Homo sapiens: one gene and its partners. The protein of the gene in region 1 purifies or fractionates together with the protein of each later gene. This does not show direct contact. Each region holds a gene or a part of one and is shown in the gene's direction. Other genes may lie near its edges. The genes, in order: DIAPH2, OAT, EPS8L1, TXNDC12, PRMT2, PCCA and ALDH9A1.

Region 1 (4,530 bases):
TAGATTACCTACTTCAAAAACTCCTTTCTTTTATCCAATACATGTAACAATAGGATCATAAAAAGCAACCCATTGTTTCTTAACTTCCAGTACTATAATATTGCTCTGATGTTTGGATTAATGATTTTCCAGATATATTTTTCATGTCTTCTTTTTTATTTTTGATGTGTCTCTATATATTAAAAACTACTTATAAACATTAAGTAAAATTTTTAAAACCTAATGATTTCACTCTCAGTCTCAATGACTCATAAAGCTATTAAGTTTGGTAATTGCGTGGTCATTGTCTCTCAGTTTTGCAAATGTGTTTTTCACTAATATTCATTACTTTTAATCATCTACTGGCCACCTTTATACATACTTATCTATTTTGTTTTTGTTGCTTCTTTCAAGACTTGTTTCTTGCATTTTCTTTTTTTTTTTGGTCTTATCTCCATATATTTTCCTATTTATTATGACCTGTGATAAACTCACATTTAAGAGCTTTAGCTATGTTCCCCATCTGCCACTCGGAGTTCTTTTAGAAATTAAATTAGGGCTGATGGAACTATTCATATGGTTGGTAATTAACTGAAGTTTAGCTGAAATGGAAATTTTGCTCCGATGAAATATCCAATTTCACCATTAGACTGTAAAATGAAGCAAAAATATTTTATAAGAAATCTGAAAAATACTTTGTGGGACAAAGATAAAATAATATATTGCTTTCTTAATGTAATGAAAACTCAAGTTTTAGACTTTCATTAGAATTTCTTTACTTATTTATTAAGTGCGTGCATGCACACGCATGCACACACATATTCATGCTTAGAAAATAAATGAAAATGGTGTTTTCTCTCCTTAGTTGACTTGTGACACTTAATAAAACCCAGGTGCCATTTCTTTAGGTTCACAGCTTTTGTAGTGCAGCACAGCTGTCTGAATCAGGGAGGATAAGAGAGAGAAGGCATGGGAATATCCATACTGAGGCTTATACTGGCATATAGTATTCAAAAGAGCCTTTTAAAAAAAATTTCTCTTTTTCTTCACCTTAATTTTTCATACAAACATATTGGACAATTTAACCACGAATTCCAGACATCTCCAGGGAGACCCAGTGACATAAGTAGAATCTTACTTTAGAAAATCATATCAGTATGCGCTTTATATGTTATTCTTTGTTGAAGAAATACTGATTGTTCCCATATTTCTCCAAATTTATGGAATTTTTAGGGCAGGCTAATGGAGATATATCTGATCAAGGAGCAACAACTCCAAGATGCAGTGATTTCATATAAAAAACAAAGACAGATAACTGCATTTGAAGAATATTCATATAATTAGGTAGAACCTCATTGTGGGGGTATGGGTTTTTGGAAGATCATTGTACGTTGCTTTTTTAAATTAAAGATATATTCCATAGACATTCTGAATGAAGGTTTTTTTTTTTTTTTTTTAGTTTGGATTACAAAGGATTCTAGGAGATGAAAGAAGTCTTTTACTATTGGCAAGAGCAATTGACCCCAAACAACCCAACATGATGACTGAAATAGTAAAAATACTTTCTGCTATTTGCATTGTTGGAGAAGAGAACATGTAAGTATTGCTATATTATTATATTTGCTGCATGGAAAATGACACTTAAGAAATTAATAAGTCCTACTTTTGTTCTCTTTCTTTGGATAACTTTCATGAAAACAGTATTTTAGATAATTTTTGATTGAAATTTTTATCTTGCCTGTTTATATTTTGGCTTCTTTGTTGACATTATAGAAACTCAGTTTAAACAGATAAAATCCTAGTGGGAAATTCTTGAAAGTTGGATTCAAAGTGATTGAGCAGAATTTTGTTTTGCTGGAGGTACAGCAATCATTAGAAAGTGGACAAAAATCAGAGAGTTATTTTGGCAAATACACACACATACATACACAAATACTGTGCTGCATATCACACAATTTGAATAGATGCCTTTATTTTACATTATCTTATAATAGTATTTTACTTTATATGCCATGGTAAATGAAAATTATTTGTAAAGTGAAATAAACCCACCTGTTAGAAAAAAACGGTTGTTGATAATTATTCAAAGTGTATATGTGCCACCAAATGCAGCAAGTTGTTGCTGAACATGCATTTGATCACATCTTCTTATGGAAATAATATTGAATCAGAAGCAAACTTTCAGATTTGATGACATTAATAAGTCTAGTTTGTAATGAACCCTTGTGATAAAGAATCAAATATCTGCTAAGGACCCGAACCAAAATATTTCCTTGGAACACTTTGCGTGACAGTAATAATGTCAATTTGAGTCAGAACAGGACTATGCAAAGATTTAAGGATGTTGGAATATGTTGACTTTCTCATAACTGTTAGAGTAAAATGAGATGTTGCTTAGTGTTAGCTACTGTCCTCAGAAACCAAAAGACAAACACTAAACAAAAATATTATCATATTAAGTCTCACCTCAATGATAACAAACTGAGAATGAGATAACATATGTAAAAGCAAGGATCCTTAGGATTTTATTTTTTAAAAGTCAGTTTATACATGTGTAAGAAATATTTTTTAATCACTTAGATTTTCAATATTCATAAAATACAATGTAGTCCAGTATAACTGTTATGATTTAATTATAATTTCAGATATAATTTGATAAGAGTAGTATACTATATAGAGATTAATTTGTTTTAGGCATTGTGTGGAGATACCAATATTTTTGGTCAGGTTAATAAGTTTCTTGTGCTAGATAATTATACATTCTTCTTTAATCACCTGGGCTTTCCTTTTTAGAGTCTTTTTTCTTTTTCCATTGTCAAAAAATGTTGATTAAAAAAATTCTTTAAAAAATAATCACTCTTTCCAGAACTTTATTATAAAATTACAATCTGTTTATGCTCCAATAAACTGTTAACAATTATAGGTGTCATATTATGTTTAAGTGATATTAATGTTAACACATGAAATATCAAAACCTGAAAATTTAAATTTTAATGTTTATCACTTAAGTATTCTTTTTTTAATGTCACCCAGAAAAGTTACTTTCCTTAAGATTTTTAAAATCGAATTTTCCTTTTGATGCCCTAAAATTATTTAGAGCTATCAATATTTGCCTTAAAGAAATATACGGACAGGAACACAATTCCTATATTGTAATGGTCTTTCAGTTAGACTGGAGGAATCAGTTCAAGAAATCTATTTTATGTGATAGTGACTGTAGTTAATAACAGTGTGTTGTATACTCGAAATTTCCTAAGAGTGTATGTAGACTTTAATTGTTCGTACCACAAAAAAATGTAAGTAGGCGAGGCAATATATGTTAATTAGCTTGATTTAGCCATTCCAGTATGTATACATATTTGAAAACATACAATTTCCATCAAAAAAGCAAATGATAATTTTTAAAAATTCTAATGGTATATATAAACATCAAATACCAGAAAGAAAACAGGGAATACTGAAAGGACCGGTGCTCATAGTGTCTGTATAAGAAGTATTTCTCATTTCTGTTTCTTCTTTTTTCTCTACAGTCTAGATAAACTTTTAGGGGCTATAACAACAGCAGCAGAAAGAAATAACAGGGAACGATTTTCACCAATTGTGGAAGGTTTAGAAAATCAGGAAGCCTTGCAATTACAGGTGAGTTAGTTTTGTCTTAAATTGCTTCTAGAGTTATATTTAGAGTACTCATTTTGTATGACATCAACTCCATTTTAGCTGGCATTTAAGTAGTATGGAATGTAAAACTAAAATTTTTTCTGTTGCTAGTTTGTGAGAATTGCAATTTGTTTAAAATTAGGAAAAATACTTTTGAATTATTATAAATGTGGCAGTTATGGCTGTCATTGATATTTAGACAAGAATTTAGTAATTAATGTAATAAACCAGGGAAATTGAAGCCTCAGCAGTAACTAAGGTAAAAGGGCAAGCAGTTCAGCCAATGCCATTATCCTAACAAGTGTTAGTGAAGTCGGTGGGCTTGTAGAAATGTAAGACAATTAAACACATCTCTCTTTGTGCCATTCAGACAATATTCAAAGGTGTGACTCACCAGAATAGAAGGGATTGAATTGCAATTCTTAGGTTAGCGTTAATTTGATAGCCCTGTGTAGACACAACTTACTAAATGCCTCCTTTAGAAAATGACAAAACTCACTATCTTTACCTAGATGGTTTCAGGAAATGATCCATTTTATGAATAGCTCTGTTCTTGAGGGATGAGAATGCATATTTATTGGCTGAACTTATGGTATGAAGTCCTGCACTAAACATTTTAATTTGCATATATTATTTGATTTAATTCTCACAACAACCTAGATATGAAGGTATTGCTATAGTATCTTTGTTTTGCTTATGGGACGAATAAGTTGAATGAGATTAAATAACTGGTCTAACGTGACACAGTTTTTAAGTGTCACAGTCGGAATTTGATTCCAGGTTTTTGGTCTCTGCTAATCTCTCTTTTAGACAATGCATACCATTTAATGTACCATGGAAAATTCTCTGAATTTTTTTTTAGTTCTCATATTGTTGTTCAACAAAGAGAAGGTA
Region 2 (4,530 bases), on another chromosome or scaffold:
GGCTTGAATTTTAGCCAGAATACTGATTACGTCAAAGAGACTTCTGTTGGTAGAACTTTTTTTTTTTTTTTTTTTTAAAGGCCTGTATTTGTGAATGGTTACCTCAGGAAAAGTAAATATTTGTCAAAATAGCAAGAACAAATTTACTCCTCAAGTTGAATATTTTAAGTGGCTTTTGGACAACTTTACGCCGACTATTCTTTTAGAGTAAGAAAATAGTTTTTAAGAGTATAGGCTAAATTAACTTCAAAATGCAGCCTTTTGTGGAAATTCTACTGTAGGTATGTTCTAATGTAGATGGATGGGCTAGATGGAGGGAGTAATGGTAGCCTGAAGGACCCTGTTAATTACGTGGATAAAACCTTCAGTGTTAGAATTCTAGCTTGCCAAGAGCAATTTGTTCTCATTTCCAGGACCTGAGTATGGGCGTCAGGTAGATGCATGATAGCTGCCTGGAACACATTATTTTGACCTTTGAAGGCCATTAGATCTAATGAAGTAAACTCTTGATGAAGAGATGAGTTATTCTAGATGAGGTCAGAGAGTGAACACCCCCTCTTAGAGTTAGACTCAACCTGGTCAGGGATAGGTGATCCCATGGTCTTGATCACTTGCTACCTTGACTCCCTCAGGAGTCCTAAGTAAGACTGACCTCTTTATCTGATAAAGGCCCACAGGATGCCCAACCTGGGCTAGGTTCTAGGAATGCAAAGTGAATTTTACTGTTTTTTAAAGGAGCTTAGAGTATAGACTTATAGGCATAAAAACAAGTGGCCTGCAGTGTTAGGACCCGTTACAAGTCTGCACAGTCCCTGGGAGTCTCTAGGAGGGACTTAAATAGTAAATTCTATAGGGGAGGGTGAAAAAAAGCTAATATGGATGCTAATTATGCATAGAAAAAATAACCAAATGTTAATGGTTATCATGCAAGTGTAAAATTGCTGGTAATTTTCTTGTCTGTGTTTTCTAATTTTTTATCAACTGAAAAATGGTGTGTGTGTGTCTTTTTAAACAGTTTTAAAAATAAATCATGGCACTGTTGATTCTGATATTTCAGAAACTGGCTAGTTTTAAGGGCAAAAGGGAACTGAGTGGCCATTTTGTGCTGGATTTGGCACAGTAACATTAACCCATTTCATCCTCAGTGACACTTCAACCTCCTTTTACAAATGGGGAGACTGAAGCTCAGAAAGATTGACAGAATCACCCAGAGTTACTCTTCAGAACCACAGACAGAATTTAAAATCCCGGTCTCCAAACTCGGGATTTTCCGCTTGATTCTCCCGGTTTTGAAACCTTTTTGGAAGAGGCTGTTATTGATGTTGGCTATTTTTAAGTCCATCTTAATTCTGCTCTAAGATTTCTCATACAGTGCCAAGCACAGTAACTTGAACACAGAAGGTTCTTTAATAGAAATGCGTTTACAGGATTTTGATACATCATGGCTCATCCAGTTTCTGACCTTTCCCAGTTGAATTAAATATCCAGAATTCATCTTAAAAACCTTAAGAATAGCTGACTCAGGGGTGTGTGCCTGTAGTCCCACCTCTTCCTGAGGCTGAGGCAGAAGGATCCCTTGAGCCCAGGTGTTCGAGGCCAACCTGGGCAACATAGCTGAGACTCCATCTGTAAGTGAAAAGAAACAAAAACCTTAAGAATGAGTATTAGTAATGTTTTGAATGATATTATTTTGTCCCCAGTTATTCTTTAATAAAACTGCCTAAACTTAACAGGTAAATGAATTTTTCATCCCATTTCTGTTGGAAATTAGCTGTGCAGATAACTTTTATATAAAATAAGAATGTTGAATTTAGATAATCTCTGATATTCCTTTTTTTTTTTTTTTTTTTTTTTTTTTTTTTTTTTTTAGCGCTTTGTAGCCCAGGCTGGAGTGCTGGTGGCACAGATCGTGGCTCACTGCAGCCCAGAACTCAGGGCTCAAGAGATCTTTCCACCTTAGTCTTAGTCTCCTAAGTACCAGATACTACAGGTACGCATCGCCACACCTGGCTAATATTCATATTTTTTATAGAGATGGGGTCTCCCTATGTTGCCCAGGTTGATCTTTAACTCCTGGGCTCAAGTGATCTGCCTTGGCCTCCCAAAGCGCTGGGATTATAGGCGTGAGCCACCTTGCCTGGCCCTAGAAAGTTGTTACGGTTTAGAGCACCACTAAGTATTGCCTGAGTGTTTTACTGCTAATTTGATAGGCAAAAATTAATGTTCTAATTTTTTAGTTGATCAAACAATTTATTCATACTGAGTAAAGCATAAAGAGTCCAAGAAAGAAATCATACATGAGTGTTTTAGACTTAGCAGTAGTATTTTGGGGAAGTTACATATAGTACAGTTAGACATTTTTGCTAGCAGCTACCTCCAGTTGGATGATTCTTACATCACTTTTGTTTTGATTGTTGGTACCCACCCCTTTGAGATAAAGTCTGATGAAAGTTATGGACCTTCTTCTTGGAAAAATATACGTCTGCATGTAATTCTGCATTTTATTTCAGGAGATTTTGGACTCTCTGCAGACTGTCCCTGGATCTTGGGTTAAAAATCTGTATTCTAGACTGAACCGTGGGAAGAAAAAATAGTCAGTGAGTCTTTGGCAAACCGGAGTACTGGATTTTGTTTAGCAATTGCAAATTCCTGAACATACTGGATTTACTGGGTAGTGCCAAGTTTAAAGGGAAGTAAGCCAAACTCCAAGTATTATGTTTTGCTAATTTGGCAGCTCGAATCAAGAGTGGCTGTGAGATTATACATGGTTTGACTTGTCATTGGTAGACTTCTGTTGAAACATGAATTAACTAGTCTTTTAGAAAGTAAGTATAGATGGAATAAGTATGCCTAGTTTTTGGCAACTTTCTCCTAATCATGAATTTATCTTTAAGCTTTTTTTTTTTTTTTCCTTCCAGAGGTGATTCCTATGCACATGCTCTAATTTCCTTTTAATTATTAGTTTCTTTCATAGCTTAGTTTTTACTTCATGGCTTATCAGGATGCTTAATGGTAAATTGGGTACAAAGAGGTGTGTGAAGCCTTGTGGAGGGGCTAGTTTTAGGGCTGGGGGTGACTGGGGAGAGTAGCTATGGCTCTGACTTATGTGATGGGGCGGCAGGGTAAACACCAGCCTGCTCAGTGATGTTTAGACTTTAACACTCATACAAGTAACGGATTGTAGTTTGTAGTTTGACTCTCTCTAGTTTCTCAGTTACCTTTTGCTAACAATAGCTTTTTCGTTTGTTTGTTTGTTTTTTGAGACGGAGTTTCACTCTTGTTGCTCAGGCTGGAGTGCAATGCGCAGTCTTGGCTCACTGCAGCCTCGTCCTCCCAAGTTCAAGCGATTCTCCTGCCTTAGCCTCCTGAGTCGCTGGGATTACAGGCATGCACCACCACGCCTGGCTAATTTTGTATTTTCAGTAGAGACGGGGTTTCTCCATGTTGGTCAGGCTGGTCTCGAACTCCCGATTCAGGTGATCGCCTGCCTCTGCCACCCAAAGTGCTGGGATTATAGGCATGAGTCACCGCACCTGGTCAACAATATCTTTTATGCTACAATTTTTCAGGATAAGTTTTGTAGAAACAACCATCCTAGCAGAATAGATTGTTTTGTTTGGGAATCTCATATATGTGTGTGTGTGTGTGTGTGTGTGTGTGTGTGTGTGTGTGTGTATGTATTTATGTATGTATGTATATGTTGGTCTAATTCAACTTGCTGTGAACACTTTAAAGCTATTATAAGTTAACATTTTTTTCCTAGTCTTTTTGCCTTTCACCTTTGTTTATGATAAATTTGACCTACAGAAGTTTTAGATATTTGTGGCTAAATAAAAGATTTTAGGCTGGGCACAGTGGCTCACACCTTTAATTCGAAAACTTTGGGAGGCCGTGGTGGGCGGACTGCTTGAGCCCAGAGGGATGGACAGTTCCTCTGTCTCCTGCCCCATGCCTAGTCTCTGGCAGTCTTCTCTGATTTGGTCTCCCTGCCTCTGGTCTCTGCCCTACAGTTGTAGCTGTCTCATAGCATTGTGCCTGATGGTATCGGACTGTGGTAGGTGCTTAACAAATACTTAGTGTTTAGCAGGTACTCAGTCAACACACAGTGCATTAGCTCTGGAAAGAGTCTTACTCTTATTGATTGGTTGGTTGATTGATTGCCTGATTGACAGGGTATCACTCTGTTGCCCAGGCTGGCCTCAAACTCTTGGGCTCAAGTGATCCTCCCGCCTCAGCCTCCTGAGCAGCTGGGGGCTACAGGCACAAACCACCACACCTGACTCAAGATTCTCACTCTTTTTTTTTCTTTTATAGAGACTATGTTGCCTAGGCTGGTCTTTAACTCCTCGGCTCAAGCGATCCTCCCATCTTGGCCTCCCAAGGTGCTGGAATTACAGATGTGAGCTATCACGCCTGGCCATTTTTTTTTTCTTGAGACTGGGCCTTTCTTTGTCTCCCAGGTTGGAGTACAGTGGCACAATCTCAGCTCACTGCAGCCTCAACTTCCGGGCTCAAGCAATCCTCCCACCT
Region 3 (3,585 bases), on another chromosome or scaffold:
CTGAGCCTCATTCTCCTCTGTAAAATGGAATCGATGGTGGGATAGTACCCACTACATATGCCTACAGCACAATGCCAAGCAACGGAGGGAGCAAATATATTCAGTCTGTTATTCTTGTTTCAAATTTCTATTAACAGTATTAACCCGGCCCCTGCTGTGCCCCCAGCTTGGCTCTAACCCCAGCTCACACCAGCACCCTGCAGCCCAGAGCAATGGGGCTGGCTGCCTCCTTATCTCCAACCCTCCCGCTTCTCCTCAGTCACCGAGACTTGGAGCCAGAATCTGAGCCTCAGCTGGAGTCAGAGACAGCAGGAAAATGGGTCCTGTGTAATTATGACTTCCAGGCCCGCAACAGCAGTGAGCTGTCGGTCAAGCAGCGGGACGTACTGGAGGTTAGAGGAGCGGGAGGCTGAGGGGCAGGAATTAGCCAGCCCTAGCTGCAGACAGGCTCTGAACCCTCTGTTCTTTACCACACCCAGGTCCTGGATGACAGTCGTAAGTGGTGGAAGGTTCGGGACCCAGCGGGGCAGGAGGGATATGTGCCCTACAACATCCTGACACCCTACCCCGGACCCCGGCTGCACCACAGCCAAAGCCCTGCCCGCAGCCTGGTGAGCCAGCGCAGACGCTGGGATCTTGAGGGTGGAGAGGCTGGGACCAGATCCTGGGAACAAGGGGCGTGGGGATCAGCTGTCAAGAGTGCTGGAGCAGGTGGTGACTGGGGGTTCAGAAATGCATCTCCAGAAAGGGGAGAGGCTGGGACTCTGAGTCCTCTCCCTAACCCAGGTACTCTCCTCTCCTTCCTTTCAGAACAGCACTCCTCCTCCACCACCAGCCCCAGCCCCGGCCCCACCTCCAGCTCTGGCTCGGCCCCGCTGGGACAGGCCCCGCTGGGACAGCTGCGATAGCCTCAACGGCTTGGACCCCAGCGAGAAGGGTGAGTGGTGGGGACGCCGGCTGCGGGGAGCGGTCCTTATCCTTGCTTTCCAGGCAGAGAAACGGGGGCTCAGAAAGAGCAAAGGGACTCCCGTCCCATTCTGGGGACGCTGGAGCGCCCCCCCGCCCCGCCCTCTGGCCCCAGGACCCCTCGCCCTGAGCCCGCACTCCCTACCTCCCGGTTTCCCGCCTGCAGAGAAATTCTCCCAGATGCTCATCGTCAACGAGGAACTGCAGGCGCGCCTGGCCCAGGGCCGCTCGGGACCGAGCCGCGCAGTCCCAGGGCCCCGCGCCCCGGAACCGCAGCTCAGCCCGGGCTCGGACGCCTCCGAGGTCCGCGCCTGGCTGCAGGCCAAGGGCTTTAGCTCCGGGTGAGTGGGGCCGGGGCCCTCTCGGCGCGGGTTGATACGGACGCTGGGAGCGGAGCGTTCCGATCGGCCGGGAGTCGGGGGGCGGCAGTCGTGGAGACCACAGGGAGCCGGGATTAGCCCGAAGTGAGGGTCTGTCTGGTAGCAACACCCAATGGCAGGCTGTGATTGCCATGTTTTTTCAGACTCCGACTGGATTCCTTAGGGAAATCCCGTACCCTTTGAAAGCAGGATGCGGCCACGCCCCCCGGGTGGCAACATTGTGATTGGTGGGTGGGGTTCAGGAGGTGTCGGGCCTGCCCCCGCTAGAGCTAGAATGCTGTTCTGATTGGACCATCGCCGGGTGGGCGTGACATGATTGTCCGGGCTGGGGCATCCGCCGACCGGCCTGACCGCGCCCGGGCTGCCCTCGCTCAGGACCGTGGACGCGCTGGGTGTGCTGACCGGGGCGCAGCTTTTCTCGCTGCAGAAGGAGGAGCTGCGGGCGGTGAGCCCCGAGGAGGGGGCACGTGTGTACAGCCAGGTCACCGTGCAGCGCTCGCTGCTGGAGGTGAGCCGGACCGCTGGTCCCTGGGTCTGGGTAGGGTTGGGATGACGAGGGCTCGGACGCCAGGACAAAGCGATTTCCACCCCGCCCTCCAGGACAAAGAGAAAGTGTCAGAGCTGGAGGCAGTGATGGAGAAGCAAAAGAAGAAGGTGGAAGGCGAGGTGGAAATGGAGGTCATTTGACCTGCCAGGCGCCCTTCGCAAAGAGTGACGAGGCCCCGTGGGAGAACGGACTCCTCAGACTCTCCCCAATAGCGGAAGTCGATCTTCTGAAGGATGGCCAATCTGCTCCGGCCCTGGTCTTCCCCCATCCCGGTGGACAGACTTAACGATCCTTGCTGCAGTCCCTCCGGAGAGGATCTGGACTGGCTGGGAGTGGGGAGGGCGTGGAGACAGTCTACGGAAAGCGCTAGCAGACCCCCGAGAGGGTGCAGTGGAGCCCTGAGCATTGTAATATGCGGCCCAGCCTATAAACAGCCTCCGTGCTTAGCAGATGGTGTGCCAACTGCTGTCCTCTACCCGGCTACCAGGGGGCTCAGAAACCTGCCCCTCGACCCAGTCACAGCCTCATGGAACCTGGAAAATGTTCCACCCTCTTTGGTTTCTCTCTGAACCCTCCTTTCCATCCCCAGGGTCCCAAACCAGGCTCCCTCCTGACCTCCTAGCCAGCCTAGTCCAGCTTGCCCCACCTTCACGTTTCCCTGGCTCGCGGCTGCTGGGCATGAGGCTTTGTGTCTCCCTTCCCGCCTCACCAACGTTCTCACTTCATTCCTTCCTGCGTCCTGGCCCTGCCCTTCTCCAAACGCTCCCAAGCGTTCAACCTCTGAGGTTTGCACCTGCTGTCTCTGCTGGCTGAAACGGCCATTCCCTGCCTGGCGAACTCCTGTTCAGCCTCCCTGGCCCAGCTCAAACACTCACTGTGGGGAAGCCTGCCCTCATCCCCGAAGCTAGTTTCCCAGCATCCACTTCTCCATTTTGTCCCCCACCTCCTGCCACGGCCCTACCAGGTAGAACTGGCTGCCTCCCAAGCATGCCACAGCTTTCTGGCCACTCTTTGTTCTGGGAGATGGCAGCCAACTGAAAACTTCCTAATCCCTCAAGAACTAGCTCCTTCTCCCTCTGGCAAGCCCTGTAACTTTCTTTTCCCCATTATCCAGGTGGCTGGTAAGGTCTGCTTTTCTCTGGATCCCACTGTTTTCCAGACTGGATATTCTCTGCCTTTGGGAAGAATGGCCCTTTCTCTTTCTCCCCTGGCTCTGCCTTCCCCAGATTACTGAGGGCCTCTGGGCCTCTGGGCCTCAAGCCTCTCCCGGAGTTGTTCCAACCTGGGCCACCAGATGGCGCCCTCCAAGATGGGAAAGGATCAGAGAGACGCCCCCCCACCCCCACCCCGCCCCCCGCCCTTGGGGCAGGCAGGAGTTCTCAGTCCCCACTTTGCCACCTCCTGCCTGGTTCCTTCTGGTTCCTTCCTTCCTCTTTGGATCTCCAAGAGTCCTTCTCCTATCTGCCCCGTCCCTAGATCCTATTCACATACTTCCCTTGGCTCCCTATGGCTCACCGGATAAAACCAGGCCCCAGCTTGGCAGTCACAGGTTGCCCACTCGGCTCACCAGCTTCTCCGACCACGGGGCTCAGCTTCCCTCCTCCTGCTGCCAAGCTTGGTTCATGTGGTTGCTTCTGCCCAGAATACTCTCAGCCCCTCTACCACTTGCCCGGGGCCCCACCCCTCATTCTT
Region 4 (4,530 bases), on another chromosome or scaffold:
ATTGTAAGGTTTGACACCTAGCTTCTGAGTGGCCTAGGTACATGGAGAATTTATTTTAATTAATTAATTAATTATTATTTTTTTGAGACAGAGTCTCACTCTGTCACTCAGGCTGGAGTGCAGTGGCCCCATCTTGGCTCACTGCAACCCCTGCCTCCTGGGTTTAAGCGATTCTCCCACCTCAGCCTCCCAGATAGCTGGGATTATAGGTGTGCGCCACCACACCCAGCTAATTTTTAAATTTTTGGTAGAGATGGGGTTGGCCAGGCTGGTCTTGAACTCCTGAACTCAAGTGATCTGCCTGCCTCAGCCTCCCAAAGTAATGGGATTACAGGCATGAGCCACTGTGCCTGGCTGAGAAATTTTATTTAACCTTATATTAATCTAGCTTCCTTGACTCTATCTTGTTTGGCATTGGACTTCTGTAAGTCCTTCTGTTTTAGGCATGCTTTTTTTTTTTTTTTTTTAAAGAAAAGAAACAGGGTCACCCTCTGTTGCCCGAGCTAGAGTGCAGTGGTGCCATCATAGCTCACTGTATCCTCGAACTCCTGGCCTCAAGCAATCCTCTGACATCAGCCTCCTGAGTAGCTGGGACTATAGGCACATGCCACTGCATCCAGCTAATTTTTAAATTTTTTTGTAGAGGTGAGGTTTCTCTATGTTGCCCAGACTGGCCTCGAACTTCTAGCCTCAAGTGATCCTCCTGCCTTGGCCTCCCAAAATGCTGGGATTATAGGTGTGAGCCACCACAACTGGCTAGGTATGCTTTTATAAGCATCGTAGAGGTACTTTTTTCTTAAACCAAGTCTGACAATTTTTGTCTTTTCACTTTAATTGGCAAGTTTAGTCCACTTATATTTGTTGTGATTATTGACAGAACAGCTCTTGTTTCTGTTATCCAGTTTCTACTGTTTTTTTCTGTGCTTTTTTTTCTTTTTGCCCTTTCTTTGGGGGTTGAATATTTGCTTGTTCTTATTTTATCTCCTTTATTAGTTTGGAAGTTGGCATTCTAGTTCTTTTCTTTTAGTAGTAACTCTTGAAATTTTACTTGCATACTTAACAAAATCTAACACTATTATACCCCCAGTGGTAAGAGGGACTTTAGAACATTTAATTTCAATCACCCACTCTTCACTTATAAGGAGTTGTCTCATATTTAGTTCTAATTTTAATTTTTTTTTGAAACTTAGTTATTTATTTTTTAGAGATAGAGTCTCATCCTGTTGCCCAGACTGGCCTCAAACTCCGGGGCTCAAGCAATCCTCCTGACTCAACCTCCAGAGTAGCTGGGACTACAGGTGCACATTGTGCCTGGCTTAGTTCTCTCTCTCTTTCTTTTTTAACTCTACAAATCGGGCATTATAAATTGCTATACAGACAATATTTACATATTTATCTACATGTTTGCTGGTTTATTTGCTCACTATTCTTTGTATCTAGGCCTTCCTCTGGGATCATTTCCTACCTGAAATATGTCCTTTAGCTATCCTTTTTATTTTCTCTGATTCTCTCCTAGGGGACTATTTCATACTTCTTCCTGTCTTTTCAAATCTCCAATACTTCTTCCATAGTCCTTGCTCTCAGTTAGTAATTATAGTCCCTCTTTACCAGAAGACAGAAGGAATCGGAAGAGGCCTTTCAAAAATTTTCACTACTGCATTTACCCACTAGTGTTCATACATGCTCCCTTTCCTGTTGTTACCTGATAAACCATCATTATTCCTAGCAAAGGCTAATCCCTCTACTTGAGTGCTAAATCCCGTCTCCTCTCACCGACTCACCAATATTTTACCAGTGACTCTCCCTTCTAATGTTGTATTACCCCTTTTTCCTATCTTTATTGTATCATTTCTATCAGCTTTCAGTTGTCCCTGGTACAGCAAAATTCTTTTCTTTTAGAGACAGAGTCTCACTCTGTTACCCAGGCTGGAGTGCAGTGGCATGATCTTGGCTTACTGCAACCTTCGCCTCCCAAGTTCAAGCAATTCTCATGCTTCAGCTTCCTGAGTAGCTGGAATTACAGGTGTGTGCCACCATACCCGGCTAATATATATATATATATATATATATATATTTTTTTTTTTTTTAGTAGAGATGGGGTTTCACCATGTTGGCCAGGATGGTCTTGATCTCTTGACCTCGTGATCCGCCTGCCTTGGCCTCCCAAAGTGCTGGGATTACAGGCGTGAGCCACCGCGCCTGGCCTAATTTTTGTATTTTTAGTAGAGATGGGGTTTCACCATGTTAGGTTAGACCAGGCTGGTCTCGAACTCCTGACCTCAAGTGATCTGCCTGCCTTGGCCTCCAAAAGTGCTGGGATTACAGGCGTGAGCCACGACACCCAGTCAAAAATTTTTTGAAAGAGTTGTATGTATTCGATCTAATTTTTCTCCTTGGACTGTCTTGGTCATGCTCTAATCATGCTTTCATCCTCACTGTAAATGGCAGCTCCATCCTTCTACTTGTCCAGGCCAAAAACCTTAGAGTGATCCTTGACTTCTCTTTTTGCTCTCATATCCCATATCCATAGCAAAATCCTGCTAACTTTGCCTTTGAAATATATCCAGAACCTATTGGTATCTTACCCCTCTACCACCCCAGCTGGTCCAGTCCACTATCATCTCTTGCCTGGATTATTGTAGTAGCCCCTTTATTAGTCTCCTTGCTTTTGCCTTGCTCCCCTGTATTAGTTTGCTAAGGCTACAGTAAGAAAGTACCACAAACTGTGTCTTTTTTTTTTTCGAGACAGAATCTTGCTCTGTCACCCAGGCTGGAGTGCAGTGGGGCAATCACAGCTCACTACAGGCTCAATCGATCCTCCTGCCCCTGCCTCCCAAGTAGCTAGGACTATAGGCATGCACCACCACACCTGGCTAATTTTTCTATTTTTTATAGAGATGGGGTCTCACTATGTTGCCCAGGCTAGTCTCAAACTCCTGGGCTCAAATGATCCTCTCACCTCGGCCTCCCAGAGTGCTGGGATTACAGGCATGAGCCACCATCCACAGCCCAAACTGTGTCTTAACAGAAATTTATTGTCTCACAGTTCTGGAGGCTAGGAGTCCAAAATCACAGTGTCAGCAGGATTGTTTTTTCTGAGGGCTGTGAGGGAAGGATGGAAAAATCACTCAGCTTATCTAAAAATGTCTATTTTGCTCTTACTTTTGAAAGATAGTTTGTTACAATTGACGAACCAATATTGATACATTATTATTAACCAAAGTCCCTAGTTTACATTCGGGTTCATTCTTGGTGTTGTACATTCTATGTGTTTTGACAAATGTATAATAACATATGTATTCGTTTGCTAGGACTGCCATAACAAATACACAGACTAACCGGCTTAAACAATAGAAGTTTATTTTCTTACAGTTCTGGAGGCTAGAAGTCCAATATGAAGGTCTTGGTAGGGTTGGTTTCTTCTTGTGGATGGCTGTCTTCTATGTCTTCACATGATCTTCCCTTTAAGTTTGTCTGTGTCCTAATCTCCTCTTCTCATAAGGATAAGGGCCCACCGCAATGACCTCATTTTACCTCAGCTACCTCTTTAAAGACTTTAAGATATGAACTTTGGAGTGGGGTGGGGGACACAATTGAGGCCATTAACAGTATGTATCCACCATTACAGTTTCATATAGAATAGTTTCACTGTTACAAAAATATCCTGAGCTCCACTTATTCATCTCTCTCCCCCAGAATCCCTGTTAACCACTGATCTGTTACTATCTCCATAATTTTGCTTTTTCCAATGTCATGTAATTGGAATTATGTAGTATATAGCCTTTTCAAATTGCTCTTTCCACTTAGTATATGTTTAAGGTTCTTCAATGTCTTTTCGTGGCTTGATTACTCCTTTCCTTTTATCACTGCATATTCATTCACTTTGTATTTCAACAAAACTGTATTTTTAATTTCTAGAAGTTCTGTTTGATGACTTCACAGATTTGACTTTCTTTTTTTTTTTTTGAGACAGAGTCTTGCTCTGTCACCCAGGCTGGAGTGTGGTGGCGTGATCTCAACTCACTGTAAACTCTGCCTGCCAGGTTCAAGCAATTCTCCTACTTCAGCCTCCCAAGTAGCTGGGACTATTGGCTTGCACCACGGCACCTGGCTAACTTTTTTGTATTGTAGTAGAGACAGGGTTTCACCATGTTGCCCAGGATGGTCTCGAACTCCTGAGCTCAGGCAATCCATCCACGTCGGCCTCCCAAAGTGCTAGGATTACAGACATGAGCCACCACACCTGGCCAGATTTGACTATTTATTTTGCATGCTGCATGCCTGTTTTTGTGATTCCATGTGTTATTTCTTTAAACATTTCATGCATAGCTATTTCTGTATTTTGTGGCTGATAATTCTAATATCTGAATTCCTCAGGGATCAAAATCTGTTTGTTGCTTGTGTTCTTGTGGCGACTTCTTTTCTCACATTTTTGGTGATCCATGATTGTGAGCTCATAATGGTTGTTCTTCTTCATTGGCTATCCTGGAAGCCTAAAGTGGAGAATCTTTTCCTCCAGAAAGTTTTGGC
Region 5 (4,530 bases), on another chromosome or scaffold:
ATATTAACAGTCTGAAGAAGAAAAATCATGATTATATCAATACAGAAAAAAATTGACAAAATTCAACATCAGTTCATGATAAAATTCTCAGCAAACTAGAAAGGGAAGGAAATTTAACATGACATAGGACATCTACAAAAAAACCTACAGAAAATCCTAAGGAGTCTATGAGAAAATTTCCTAAAACTAGTAAGTGAGTTTAACAAGATCACAGAGTGCAAGGTCATCATACAGAAGTCATTTTTATATCTTAGCAATGTACAATTAGAAATTAAAGAATATCACAGTAGCTTCAAAAATATGAAAGGCTTAGAAATCTAACAAAATGTGATCTGGATGCTGAAAATGATGAGATGATAATGAAAGAAACCCCAGAAAACCTAAATAAATGGAGAGATAAGAAGGCTCAACCTAGTAAAGACGTATGTTCTTTTTAAATTGATCTGTAGACTTAATAAAATTCCAATTAGAATCCAAGCAGGATTTGTTCTTATAGATAAGCTCATTATGAAATGTATATGGAATGTAAAGGAACTAGTGCTATGGTTTGTCCCCACCAAATCTCATGTTGAAATTTGATCCTCAGTGTGGTGGTGTTGGGAGGTGGGGCCTAGTGGGAGGTGTTTGGGTCATGGGTGTGGATCCCTCATGAATAGATGAATGCCCTTCCTCGTGGGTAGATAAGTGAGTTCTAGCTCTTTCAGGTCCCAACAAGAGCTGGTTGTGAAAAAGAGCCTGGCACGCCCACTTGCCTCTGCTCCCACCCTGTGGTCTCTGCACGTGCCAGCTCCCCTTTGCTTTCCACCGTGAGGGGAAATAGCCTGAAGCCCTCACTGGATGCCCAATCCTGAACTTTCCCAACCAGCAGAACCATGAGCCAAATAAACCTCATTTCTTTATAAATTACCCAGCCTCAGATATTCCTTTTTGGCAACACAAAAATGGACTAAGAGAACTAGAGTAGCTGATAGAATTTTTTAAAAGAAGGGTAAAGTTGGAGGAACTATACTACTTGATTTTGAAGCTACAGTAATCAGGACAATGTGGTGAAGGGACAGACACGTAAGTCAATGGAATGGAGACGAGAGATTTCTACAAATATGGTCAATGGGTTTTTTTTAACAAAGGTACAAAAATCAATTTAATGGAGAAAAGACAGTCTTTTCAGCAAATGTTACTGGAATAGTTGTCATCCATATCTAAAAAACAACACCTCAACCTCACATCTCATACACAGCTGAACTTAAAATTGATCATAGATCTAAGTGTGTGAAATGTAAAACTATAAACCTCCTTGAAAAAATCATAGAAAATCTTCATCACCTGGACTTGGGCAAAGACTTTTTACTCTAAAAGCGTGATCCATAGCAGAAAATGTTGATAAATTGAATTTCATCAAAACTAAAAATGACTGCTCTGCAAAAGGATGATGCTAAGAGAATAAAAAAGACAAGCTAAGATTAGGAGAAAATATTGCAAAGAACATATCCAGTGTGTGTTCTGAATATACAGAGAAATCTCAAAACTCAACAGGAAGAAAACAAGCCAATTGAAAATGGGCAAAATACTTGAACAGACACTTTACCAAAGTGGATATACAGATATCAAATACACACATGAAAAGATGTTCAGCATAGCCATCAGGGAAATGCACATTAAAGCCACAGTGAGATATCACTTACACCCATTGAAAAATGACTACAATAAAAAAAAAATCTGATAGTAATACCAACTGTCATCGAGGATGAGGAACAGCTGAAAGTCATGCATTGCTGGAGGGAACATGCCACTGTGGAAACAGGTGGGTGCTTTCTTATAGACTTGTATGTGCACTCACCTTATGCCCAGGAGTCCCTCTCCTGTGTGTTCAACCCAGAGATATGCAAGCTGTGTTCACACAAAAACCTGTATGTGAATGATTATACTAGCTCTCTTTATAATTGCAAAAAAAAAAAAAACAAAACCTGGAAACAACCCAAGTGTCCTTCATCTGGATAATCCTTAAGGATAAACTGGTGCGTCCACACAGTGGAATACCACTGAGCAGTGAAGAGGAGCCAGTTATTGAAACAGGTAATTTGGAGGAACCCCAGAAACGGTACAGTGAGTGAAAGAAACTTGTCTTGAAAGGTTATGTACTGTTTGGTTCCATTTGTATGATATTCTCAAAAAGACACAAGACCATGGGGATGGAGACCAGATCGGTGGCTGGAGAGGCTGGGGTCGGGGAGGGCATGACCACCAGAGAAAAGGGTGAAGAGTGTTTTGGGTGGCAGAGCTGTGTGTATGCTGGCTGTGGTTGTGAGGACAAAATCCACACAAGCGCTCAAGTTCGTAGGCTGTACGCCAGAAAAGCTGTTTCACTACATAACTGAAAAAATAAGATTGAAAAATAAGATGTATATATTTTTTGTGTGCGTGTGTAGAAAAATACTTGAAGGTAAACTGCAGAGTGATAACAGTGGTTCCTTCTAGGTACTGGGTTAATATGTGATTTTTATGTTTGTTTGAGCTTTTCTAAGTTTTCTACATTTTCCGTACAAAACATGTATTACTTCTGTAATAAAAGCAGCTTGAGATTATTTAAGGAAGCAAAACACTTCTGTTGTTTCTCATCAACTACAGGATGAAGTGCAGGCTCCCTGGGTGGTTTGCAGGGGCCACAGGCCTTGGCCCCACCTCGCTGGTGCTCCCTCTACTCCTTTCTGTGTTTGAAGCAAGTTCTGGTTCAGACAGAAAGCCTGGCCTTTGAGGGCGTTGGGTCCCCACTTCCTCAGTCATAGATGTGATGTGCTTCCCTTGACTTGGGACCTTCTGAGGGATGCAAGGTGGACCAAAGGACCCGTGAATGGCCAGGGCATGCCTGCGTGGCTTTCGGTTTCTTAAGCAGTGATTTCAGTCCACTTAAAGGGTGTGAAAATTCTGAGAATGCTACGGACCAAATATATTTTATGTAACAGTTGGGACCCGGCAACACTTCAGGGCTCTTTCAAAATCTGGTAGCTACGAGCTCTTCCGTGACTGAGATGGGACAAGAGTGAAGATTTGTCCTTGCTTTTAGCTCTGCTCCAGTTCATAGTTCTAATGGGAAATTATGTGACTTAAACCCAGGCTGTGAGATGCATCAGTGACGTGTGGGCATAAAATAAACCCTCGAGATGTTCTCTTGCATGGTACACTGGCCTAGGCAGGAATATTCTTGAGGCTAAAACTGTAGAACTGTCAGACTAGTGTTACGAATGTGGTGGTGAGAGGCCTGTGCAGCCGCGGGGCCTGTGATGTGTCTCCTGTGTGTCTTTCACTCCTATGCAGTTTGAGTTCATGATCGAGTCCATCCTGTATGCCCGGGATGCCTGGCTGAAGGAGGACGGGGTCATTTGGCCCACCATGGCTGCGTTGCACCTTGTGCCCTGCAGTGCTGATAAGGATTATCGTAGCAAGGTGCTCTTCTGGGACAACGCGTACGAGTTCAACCTCAGCGCTCTGAAGTAAGTGTCCACAGCTGGGACTGGCACCGTCTTGTGGGGCCTCCTGGTCCACAGTCTGCAGGTGGGCCAAGGCCCTGGGAGATCCCATACGACGGTTGGATAAATGAGGGTACCTGTGCACCCAGATAGGACAATCTGTTGTAGCATTGGAGTAATTAAAGCAGTATGGTGCTATAACAAGACAGATGGGCAGAGCAGGGTAGAATGCAAGGAACAAAAATTTTCGTATGTGAAAAAGGTGGCATTACGATTAGGAGGGAGTGAGGGCCAAGTCAGCAAATTATTCTGGAGCAGTTGATTAGCCCTTGTTCTCTCACGCCATACGTGAAAACTTAATTCTGCATGGAATCAGCGTCAGCGACAGACATCCATGGGGGCCTGTGTGCACCATCTTAGGTGGAGAAATGAGCAGCAACAATGGATGGAATGGACCCTGGGCTAGATAGAATCTGGCAGTCTATGTGGCAGAAATCAGCAAAAACACGATTGTAAAAGCAAACAAGTAATTAGAGAAATCACGTGCTGTCAGGTCTTGGAATCAATTAGAAAGAGATGACTAGCCAGATGGAATTGCAGCCCAATCATGTGAACAGGCAAACCGCAAAAAATAAATAAAATTACCAATAAATATATGAAAAATTATAATGTTGTTAGTAGTTAAAATGCGAATTAAAATACATGCTGTTTTCCCTACCAGACAAGCAAAGAGTAAATTAAAATAGTAGCCCAGGCTTGCCTGGCAGTGGCAGGGAGGTGTGGCTGCCAGGGCCTTAGAGGTTGGCATCAGGCTGCCCACCCCAGTCACTGCCAGAGCCTCCCACCTGAGTGTTCCTCCCGGCACTGGAAGCCAGTGGCCGTCCAGAGGAACGTGATTGAATTGCTGTATATCCATCTGGTGGAGCACTGCTGTGTGTCTGTTAAAAAAGAAACCATAGGTTTTTAGGGATATGTAATGATATTTAGAAAGGGTTTAAGAGACAGTAAAGCTTGGCAGAATAAACCGTGTATACAGAATGGATGTTTGCTTGCATAAATAAATTTA
Region 6 (4,530 bases), on another chromosome or scaffold:
ATGGGTTTTTTAAAAAAATGCCCACCTTGGGTACACATTAGTTGTTGATCAGATATTTACTTAAAATTTTTCCCAACCTTTTTTTTGTATAATTTTCTCCTTTATTATTACATAAAAATAACAATCAAAATTTAAATTGTAAAGCTTTTAGTAAAACATGTACTCTTAATTTATAATTTTAATTTTGGGTTTTACTCATAAACTCTCAGTTCAGTACTTCTAAATGCTTTTTTTCAAATGACTAAAACAAGAATGCAAGGTAACATTTGTACTATTTTTACTTTTCGACATCAAAAATGTCTGTCAAGATTAAAAATAAATCAGTGTCTGTGTTTAAGAATACTGAGAGCTGGTTTGAAATATTTTTCAAGGAGTTCAAAAATATGTTTTGGCGTGACTGTATTGCTCTTGCTTTTTTCATATTTTAAGTAGTATTACTTTCATTCTTATGACACTGAACCTGTTTATTCTGATGATCTAAGATATTTACAAATGAAGTGCATATCTAGTAGCGTGCAAAGTTTTTTTTTTCAGGTCTTTATTTGAAGAACCCAAATTCTCAAGTTTTACCATATGTGAACTGTTTTGAGAAGTAAGAAAAACAAATATCTTTAGTATACCACATTTGTTGTTCTAAACTTGAGTATGTTTTGATGTAGGGCCTAGGTTATTTTATTTTTTGCCCAAGGCATTCTAAGAAGTTTTATAAAATGTTGGAATTTTACCAATTTCAATAAAGTATGAACAAGGTCAGGCTAAATTCTGCTTACAGTTCTGTTTGATTTTTAAGTACATTCTAAGTTGTCTAGCGTAAAAGACAATAATATTCTGAAATCTGTGATTTGGTAAATACCATATGTTGAAAATAGACCTATAAATGGTTCTTCATTGTGTAAATATTTAACCTTACTTGTGCTGATTTATATTTCAAAGACTGTGCTTCCTTTCCTTTGAACTTTCAGGACCCCTACAAGTCTTTTGGTTTACCATCTATTGGGAGATTGTCTCAGTACCAAGAACCGTTACATCTACCTGGTGTAAGTCATTAAGCTGTAATACCAGCTGAAGGGTTAAAATCGTGATTTATGTCATACTTTTATGTTAAAGCATGTCAACACCAAAGGGTGTAAATTGAAGGACAAGTGAAATTCATGGGAATCATGGTTTTTGTGTTGAAAACAAATTTTTTTCAGTATTTTGTGGTGTTCAAGAAAGTCAGGATTCACTGGACAGGGGAAGCCTGGGGACATCTGATGATATAAATGATAGCTTACAGTGTTCCCAATTCTTTCGAAAATTATAATAAAAAAGGCTGTGAATCCTAAGAATGAGAAATGATGTTTTGTGTTACAATTTAATCTTTTCAATAAATCGAGTCCAACCCTGCTATATAGTCACTTGTCAAGAAATTCAAGCACAAAATCAGCTCCTTAATTGAAATTTAAGGAGATTGAATTAAGGCAAACAAAGTGTGCCTCAGTCTATTAAACCTCATGGACTTTAAAGAGTAATAATATTTATATCAGTTAAATAAAAGTGACCACTGTCCATTTTATTCCATAGCTCTTCTGTATTTAATAGCTATTTTGAAAATAGTTTTTGTTGCAGAAAAAGAGCAAGGACATACCCTTTTTCTTAATCAAGGTAATAAGTGCATATATATATATATATATGACATTATGTTAGCTAGTAGATGACAAGGCTGTACCATCTGTGAATATTCAAATTATTCATTTTGATTACTGGCATGAAGATGGTGAAAGATTACAGGAAGAATTCTAAATCTGAAGATATTATTGGATATATGATTTATTTCACTTTTTAAATTGTTTTTGCCCATGTGCTTTCTAAAGGGACTTGACCCTTTCTGTGCTTGGAGACTCCATGCTGTGTTCAAAGCCAGAAGGCAGAAAAAAAATTGTGAAGATTTAACAGGCATTATGTGACGTTAAATAGCACATGAGAAAACAAGTATCATAGGGACATATCTAAACACTTTTTTAATCAAACAAAAGAAGTATTAAATAAGAATTCATAATGATTACTCTAGTTGTTAGAAGTTTTCACCATGTTGTAATAGCTAACAGGATGTCAAACATTTTGCCCTCGCAAGTTTTTGCAATTTGCAATTTTCAAACGTGAGACCTGTTGAAAGTACAAGTGATAATGGACAAACTATACCCCCTACAGTCTTCATCCCACCAAATCTTTCTTCAATTAATGCTGCAGCAGGAGTTTTATGTAATAACATTTGCAGTTGTGAGCCATCCATAGAAAGAAAAAACAATTAAAATGCCTTAAATGTTCTGCTTACTGCTGTTATTTGCTTGTGTGAATGTTGCATGTCAGCTAAATGGACCAAGGAGTAGATAAAGTGATTGGGTGCAGGAGAGTGCACACTAAGCTTTGTCTATCATTATTGCTGGGAGCAATCAAATTGATGTCAGCAGGACAGTAGATGCGTTGACAGCTGTAATTATGTATCTCCATGGTGATCACTTTTGGCCTGTCATGGAGGCCCATGAGTCCCCTCCCTTGGAAGCATTTAATCAGATTGGGCTGTCACTTGTCAGGTAGACATGGCGGGCTGGGAGTTGTGCTTAGGGGGAGAGGTGAATTGAGAATGAAGGGTGGGAGATGTCTGATAGTTTCACAGAGTCCACTGTGGTACTGAAGACAGAAATTTTAATTATGCTAGAGGTTTCTGAGCAGTGGTTTGAGAATCTCGTACAGAGGTGCTTGGGTGTTTTGTTGTGGTTGTTATTGTTTGTTTTTCTTCCTTGTCTTATTAAAACTAGAGCAGTCAGTTTACCTTAGAAAACAATTTTTGGCTCTTACCTTTTTTGGTCACAAGAATGCATACTTAAGAGTTAACTTATGGTTTGTACTTTTCACATGCTTCATTAAGCCTGAGATTTATTAATATGGCAGAGGTGAAGATTTCCTTTTTTATTTTTGATCATCATGTTTTGTAAATTTGTTATTTTCAGACCACAGTTTTGTTCTGCTCAGAAATTTGGTTCTGATTTCATTTGAATTTTTTCTTAAAGTTTTTAGTGCAAATTTGTATAGCCTTTCATTGAAGGAATGGAGACTTGATCTGACTTCAGATTGGTTGTTAAGAAATAAAAATATAGCTGATTATTACTTGGAAAAAGCAGCATAAATAGTAAATTATAAAGCAGAGTTTTCATACTGTGGTACAGTTTTTAATTGGGAATACTGATTTGCTTATACAAAGATACGTGTTTATATATATCTTGATTTTATCGTATGTATTTTAAAGTTAAGATGACATAACTTCTGTGATCATAATATTAGTAAATAACAAAGACAGTTATATTTAATTAAGATCTGTAGGTAACACCTTATAGGATGATATTATTCAAGGCAACTGAAGTTTTAAGTAAGGAACTGTAGAAGAACATAATAAATATTCTTTATTGTCTATGTTATTTTATTTGTGGGTTGAACATCTAAGTTCTTCCTAGCTTTGTAGCAGTTTATGTAGCAAATGATAGGATGTAGTTAAAGTCAGAAGTTTTAGAACTTGTATCAGTCTCGTTTGTAAACACAGCATTAGCAAGCATGCTGTGGTTTTAAAGATGACATAGTGGTCAAATTAGCTCTTTCACTTTTTAGTACTAAAATTAAGAAAATGAAAACTCACAGATATATTTTCTGTTATGTAACCCGTTTACTAGTTGCCATTTTGGGGCTCTTTAATGTGGGGAAAAGGTAGATTGTGATTTTATTGCTTTTAAAGCTGCTCCATTAATTTTTTTCTAGTTTTTGTCAACACTGTGAATTTCATAGAACATCAGTTTATGTCCTGAAATATGTTTTCAGAAAATAGAAAGCCAAGTATATTTCGTAAGTGTGCTGAATGATTTTTGTTTATAATTAAGATTTTTGTATATGAATGTGAATACGAATACAGATATCTATATTTTTGTTTGTGCTTGCAAATACAGAAATAAAAGCCCTTCAGGTATGTTATAGTGTTCCTTTTACAACCTTACAAAGAGAATAATAGTAGTGTGAATTTTAAGAAAATGAAACTATCGCTTGTCTTCTGATGTCACCGTATAATAAAGCCATCATTATACCCTCATGTGGATATCCTAGACAAGAGGTTCTACATGTGGTCCCTTGATAATTGCCTAAATTAAAATATTAAAGGCCTAACAGCCGCTGTGTTGACCTTTTTCTGCCTTGCTGCAGACAGATGAGCTGCTGTTTATTAGGAAGGCTTCTTCCCACAGGTGGAAGGCTACGTGAGCTTCCGCTCTTCTCTTCCCACCCCTTTACAATGTTGGGCATCAAAGTCCTGCTGTTCCAGCAGCTTTGATTCAGTTCCTCCATCCTCAAGACCCCTAGGATGTGCCTGACAGTCTGAAGTATTTTGATTAGCTTTTAAATACTTCAGATTCCAAAACTTCTTTCTAATAATTTAATAAATGTTCTGTCCTCAGTAACTGCTCATTTTTAAAGTTTTGCATGGCTAACCTCCGTGCCTTGCTGCTGGTA
Region 7 (4,530 bases), on another chromosome or scaffold:
GTGAAATCTTGGGGAGCACAGACCTGCATCCTCCTTTACTCCTGTTTTCCCCATAGGTGAACACATCCAGCTCCCAGGTGGATCGTTTGGTTATACCAGAAGAGAACCACTTGGGGTATGTGTGGGAATAGGAGCATGGAACTACCCCTTTCAGATTGCCTCTTGGAAGTCGGCTCCAGCATTAGCCTGTGGTAAGAATGAATTATCCCTCCATTTGAGAGCCATTCGTTCATTCTCTCGTTCGTTCTCTCCCCATTCTCTACCTTTCACCTCTCTATAAACACACACTTTAAATCGGAAGGGGCCTGCTCTGGGATATTCAAAGCCTCAGAGGACATGGCTCGTTCCTGCCCTGTCTTGCCCCTCAAGGAGCTTATAGTTAAGGTTGTACACAATCATGTCTAGATATTCTCAGGTTTTATTTATTTAATTTTGTATATGAAAAGAAATTTAATTTTTTCTTATTAAATTGAATTAGATTTGTGCTACTTATAAGTTCTCTTCCTTTCTGGACAAGAATTTTAAGGTAGGAGTTAGCACTTAGGAGTTTGACTTCATTTACGAAGCAGAAGATAAACTCCTTTCTTCATTTGGGTCTTAAGAGAAATGATAAGCAAGGCTTTGATAAGCTTCTTATCAAAGAGGAGCTTTGGCTGATTGACATAAAATAGTTTTCTTACAGTATTTAAAGAGAAGAATCTTTGAGGAAAGAAGACTAATTTTATCTTAGAAAAAATTGTAATGTTAGAAAGCATTACTGTTAGGACATTATATTGAAATGCAGCTTTTGTCCTGTTGCCATTGCATGTTCTTGTTTTAGCCTATTTCTCTTTGAGATACAGCTGTGAAAGAGGAAAAATAGTCACTAGCTTTAATAGTCACCAGAATTAAGTCACTAGCTTTGGGGACTCTCATCAAGTGAACCATTCTGGTCTTCAATGTCAACTTTTATAAAATGGAGCTAATGATACCTACTTCATACTGCTGTTGAAAGTGTTAAATGAGATAATATATGTGAAAAGGCCTAGATATGCAAATGTGAGACTGGGCAACTGTAGGGTTTGGGATCTGTTTAATGAGAGAAACCAAGATGAAAAGGACAAGAGTTGTTTACTTATTGATATGGTTTGGCTGTGTCCCCACCCAAATCTCAACTTGAATTGTATCACCCAGAATTCCCATGTGTTGTGGGAGGGACCCAGGGGGAGGTAATTGAATCATGGGGGCTGGTCTTTCTCATGCTATTCTCCTGATAGTGAATAAGTCTCATGAGATCTGATGGGTTTATCAGGGGTTTCCGCTTTTGCTGCTGCTTCATTTTTCTCCTGCCGCCAATGTAAGAAGTGACTTTCACCTCCCGCCATGATTCTGAGGCCTCCCTAGCCATGTGGAACTGTAAATCCAATTAAGCCTCTTTCTGTTCCCAGTTTCGGGTATGTCTTTATCAGCAGCATGAAAACAAACTAATATGGTTATTAATAACATTTTTGATGTAGGATTTGGTTGGGGAAGAGGAAACAATTGGAATCATTTTTGAATTGTCCTCTAGTCCTGTTTTCAGGGGATCACTGGTCTTAGAAAGTCTTTTTATGTTTGTGTCTTGGGTTTATGCAGGTAATGCCATGGTCTTTAAACCTTCTCCCTTTACACCTGTTTCTGCATTGCTACTGGCTGAAATCTACAGTGAGGCTGGTGTACCTCCTGGGCTCTTCAATGTGGTGCAGGGAGGGGCTGCCACAGGCCAGTTTCTGTGTCAGCATCCCGATGTGGCCAAAGTCTCCTTCACTGGAAGTGTGCCCACTGGCATGAAGGTGAGGACAAAACCAGTATTGGTCAACACACATGGCATTTGGATGTGGCAAATCCGGTCCTACCCAGAGTATATTTTGGAGGCTTCTCTTTTGATTTTACCTAGCCTGAATTGGGAATGGGAAGGAGATTTTATTAGGCAGAGGTGTGAAATTTCCTGTAAAAGTATGAAGGGGGAAAGGGAGTACACATGGGGTGATTTGTGTTAGGCCAGGTAGGGGTGGAAATTAACAGCCCCAGCCTAAGGAGAGGATGTGTCTTAGTGGACAGGGGCCTGGGCTGCCACTTGTATTGTTTAGTGACTTAATTTCTTGTATAGAAGAAAGGATTTTTACTCAGGCTATTTCAGATCCATTATTTTGACATTAATTTGTGTTCTGAACTCTGTCAGCCTTAAACACAGTAACAATAACACAAAAGAATTTCTGGCTATGACAATCCTGTGAATTGACAATATTTTTTATTTTTATTTTTTTGAGACAGGGTCTCACCCTGTTGCCCAGGCTGGATTATAGTGGTGTAGTCACAGCTTACTGCAGCCTTCAACTCCTGGGCTCAGGCAGTCCTCCTGCTTCAGCCTCCTAAGAAGCTGAGACTACAGTCATGTGCCACTGTGCCTGGCTAAGTTTCTTATTTTTCTGTAGAGATAGGGTCTTGCTATGTTGCCCAGGCTGGGACAATATTTTTTAAATGAACTCCCTCTTCTAATGTCAGTGCAACTCTGTGGATTCTCTTCAGTTTTCTGGAATAGAATATTTTAATAGCCAAAAGGCAAAGGATATTGACAAGAATAAGGCTACAGGTCACAAACAGTTCAAGATGATTTTGTAGGTTCAGGGCCTAGTTGACTTAGCATGCAATATAATTTGTGTTAAAGTTCTGAATACCTTGTCCTTGTTCTGCAAGATCATGGAGATGTCAGCTAAAGGAATCAAACCTGTTACCTTGGAACTTGGAGGCAAATCTCCACTCATCATCTTCTCAGACTGTGATATGAACAATGCTGTAAAGGGGGCGCTGATGGCCAACTTCCTCACACAAGGCCAGGTATGTACCTGTCCCTGGAAGAGGTGTAAAAGGAATCTCTACCCCCTCATCCAACAGTGTGTTTTAAAGCTTTTTGTTTTACAATACTTTCAGACTTACAGAAAAGTTGCACAAATAGTACAAAGAATTCCCATGTACCTTTGAACCAGATTTCTCAAATATTAACATTTTAACAGATTCACTTTATCATCTTCTTTATCTGCCTGTACATACGTAGGCATATTAAGTTTTTCTGAACCTTGAGAGTAAATTGTAGACATAAGGCCCCTAACCTCTAAATATAAAGTTCCTAAAAACAAGTGCATTCTTTTACATAAGCACGGTACACTTAGTAAAATTAAAAAATTAACATTGATATAGTACTGTTACTGAATCTATAGCCCTTACTCAATCTATAGCCCTTATTCAAATTTTGCCACTTGTTTGACTAATGTCCTCATAGTAAAATAGAACAAAAATGGTTTTTTTTCCGGTCTAGGATCCAGTCAAGGATGATGCATTGCCTTTAGTTGTCTTGTCTTTAATCTCCTTTAGCTGAGAACAGTTCTTCAGTTATTCTTGTCTTTCAGGACGTTGACATTTTGGGAGAACAGGCCATTCATTTTGTAGAATGTTCCTTAGTTTGGGTCTGTCTGATGTTTTCTGTTAGATTCATATTATGAATTTTTGGCAAAAATACCACAAACATGATGTCATATCCTACTCAGTGGTGATTTAACTTTGATCACTTGCTTTAAGGTAAGTCCTCACTGTAAAGTTACTGTTTTTTACTTTGTGGTTAATAAGATCTTGTAGGAGGTATTTTGAGACTATCCTGTTCCTCATCAAACTTTCATGCAGTAAATACTTCTATCACCACTGACGATTCTTGCTGAAAACAATTTTTATTATGGGGTTGCAAATGGTGATTTTCCAATTCCATCATTTCTTCTATATTTGTTCACCTTCTACTGTAAGAAAGAACTTGCCCTTCACCCCTGTTTGTTTTCCATTCATTTATTTATATCAGTATGGACCCATGGATTCTTATTTCATTCTATGTGTTATAATCCAATACTATCATTATTTATTTATTTTTTATTTTTATTTATTTACTTACTTATTTTTTGAGACGGAGTCTAGCTCTGTCCCCCAGACGGTAGTGCAGTGGCACGATCTCGGCTCACTGCATCCTCTGCCTCCCAGGTTTAAGCGATTCCCCCGCCTCAGCCTCCTGAGTAGCTGGGATTACAGGTGCCCGCCACCATGCCCAGCTAATTTTTGTATTTTTAGTAGAGACAGAGTTTCACTGTGTTGGCCAGGCTGGTCTCAAACTCCTGACTTCACAATCCACCCACGTTGGCCTCCCAAAGTGCTGGGATTACAAGTGTGAGCCACTGTACCCGGCCTTTATTTTATTTTTTTATTGAGACGGAGTCTCACTCTGTCACCCAGGCTGGAGTGCAGTGGCACGATCTCAGCTCACTGCAACCTCCACCACCTGGGTTCGGGTTCAAGTGATTCTCCTGTTTCAGCCTCCCAAATAGCTGGGACTACAGGTGTGTGCCACCACGGCTGGCTAATTTTTTTTTTTTTTTTTTTTTTGAGACAGAGTCTTGCTCTGTCGCCCAGGCTGGAGTACAGTGGTGCGATCTCGGCTCACTGCAAGCTCTGTCTCCTGGGTTCATGCCATTC

Evidence for each region.
Region 2: the proteins of DIAPH2 (region 1) and OAT fractionate together in Homo sapiens (co-fractionation; one large-scale study listed by BioGRID). This does not show direct contact.
Region 3: the proteins of DIAPH2 (region 1) and EPS8L1 fractionate together in Homo sapiens (co-fractionation; one large-scale study listed by BioGRID). This does not show direct contact.
Region 4: the proteins of DIAPH2 (region 1) and TXNDC12 fractionate together in Homo sapiens (co-fractionation; one large-scale study listed by BioGRID). This does not show direct contact.
Region 5: the proteins of DIAPH2 (region 1) and PRMT2 purify together in Homo sapiens (co-immunoprecipitation; one large-scale study listed by IntAct). This does not show direct contact.
Region 6: the proteins of DIAPH2 (region 1) and PCCA fractionate together in Homo sapiens (co-fractionation; one large-scale study listed by BioGRID). This does not show direct contact.
Region 7: the proteins of DIAPH2 (region 1) and ALDH9A1 fractionate together in Homo sapiens (co-fractionation; one large-scale study listed by BioGRID). This does not show direct contact.

Annotation. Positions count from the first base shown.
Region 1 is NC_000023.11:96,915,000-96,919,529, forward strand, and holds part of DIAPH2 (protein diaphanous homolog 2), read left to right. Parts: intron 1-1,438; coding exon 1,439-1,575; intron 1,576-3,509; coding exon 3,510-3,618; intron 3,619-4,530. UniProt on the Homo sapiens protein: Could be involved in oogenesis. Involved in the regulation of endosome dynamics.
Region 2 is NC_000010.11:124,412,413-124,416,942, reverse strand, and holds part of OAT (ornithine aminotransferase, mitochondrial isoform 1 precursor), read left to right. Parts: intron 1-1,870; exon of another isoform or gene 1,871-1,990; intron 1,991-2,510; exon of another isoform or gene 2,511-2,825; intron 2,826-4,530. UniProt on the Homo sapiens protein: Catalyzes the reversible interconversion of L-ornithine and 2-oxoglutarate to L-glutamate semialdehyde and L-glutamate.
Region 3 is NC_000019.10:55,085,582-55,089,166, forward strand, and holds the end of EPS8L1 (epidermal growth factor receptor kinase substrate 8-like protein 1), read left to right. Parts: intron 1-137; coding exon of another isoform or gene 138-177; exon of another isoform or gene 178-259; coding exon 260-392; intron 393-479; coding exon 480-611; intron 612-810; coding exon 811-937; intron 938-1,132; coding exon 1,133-1,307; intron 1,308-1,721; coding exon 1,722-1,854; intron 1,855-1,946; coding exon 1,947-2,033; 3' UTR 2,034-2,342; downstream 2,343-3,585. UniProt on the Homo sapiens protein: Stimulates guanine exchange activity of SOS1. May play a role in membrane ruffling and remodeling of the actin cytoskeleton.
Region 4 is NC_000001.11:52,044,411-52,048,940, reverse strand, and holds part of TXNDC12 (thioredoxin domain-containing protein 12 precursor), read left to right. Parts: intron 1-4,530. UniProt on the Homo sapiens protein: Protein-disulfide reductase of the endoplasmic reticulum that promotes disulfide bond formation in client proteins through its thiol-disulfide oxidase activity.
Region 5 is NC_000021.9:46,655,433-46,659,962, forward strand, and holds part of PRMT2 (protein arginine N-methyltransferase 2), read left to right. Parts: intron 1-3,312; coding exon 3,313-3,488; coding exon of another isoform or gene 3,489-3,492; exon of another isoform or gene 3,493-4,530. UniProt on the Homo sapiens protein: Arginine methyltransferase that methylates the guanidino nitrogens of arginyl residues in proteins such as STAT3, FBL, histone H4. Acts as a coactivator (with NCOA2) of the androgen receptor (AR)-mediated transactivation.
Region 6 is NC_000013.11:100,301,962-100,306,491, forward strand, and holds part of PCCA (propionyl-CoA carboxylase alpha chain, mitochondrial isoform a precursor), read left to right. Parts: intron 1-962; coding exon 963-1,037; intron 1,038-3,789; exon of another isoform or gene 3,790-3,873; intron 3,874-4,530. UniProt on the Homo sapiens protein: This is one of the 2 subunits of the biotin-dependent propionyl-CoA carboxylase (PCC), a mitochondrial enzyme involved in the catabolism of odd chain fatty acids, branched-chain amino acids isoleucine, threonine, methionine, and valine and other metabolites.
Region 7 is NC_000001.11:165,677,768-165,682,297, reverse strand, and holds part of ALDH9A1 (4-trimethylaminobutyraldehyde dehydrogenase isoform 1 precursor), read left to right. Parts: intron 1-56; coding exon 57-191; intron 192-1,614; coding exon 1,615-1,811; intron 1,812-2,715; coding exon 2,716-2,856; intron 2,857-4,530. UniProt on the Homo sapiens protein: Converts gamma-trimethylaminobutyraldehyde into gamma-butyrobetaine with high efficiency (in vitro). Can catalyze the irreversible oxidation of a broad range of aldehydes to the corresponding acids in an NAD-dependent reaction, but with low efficiency.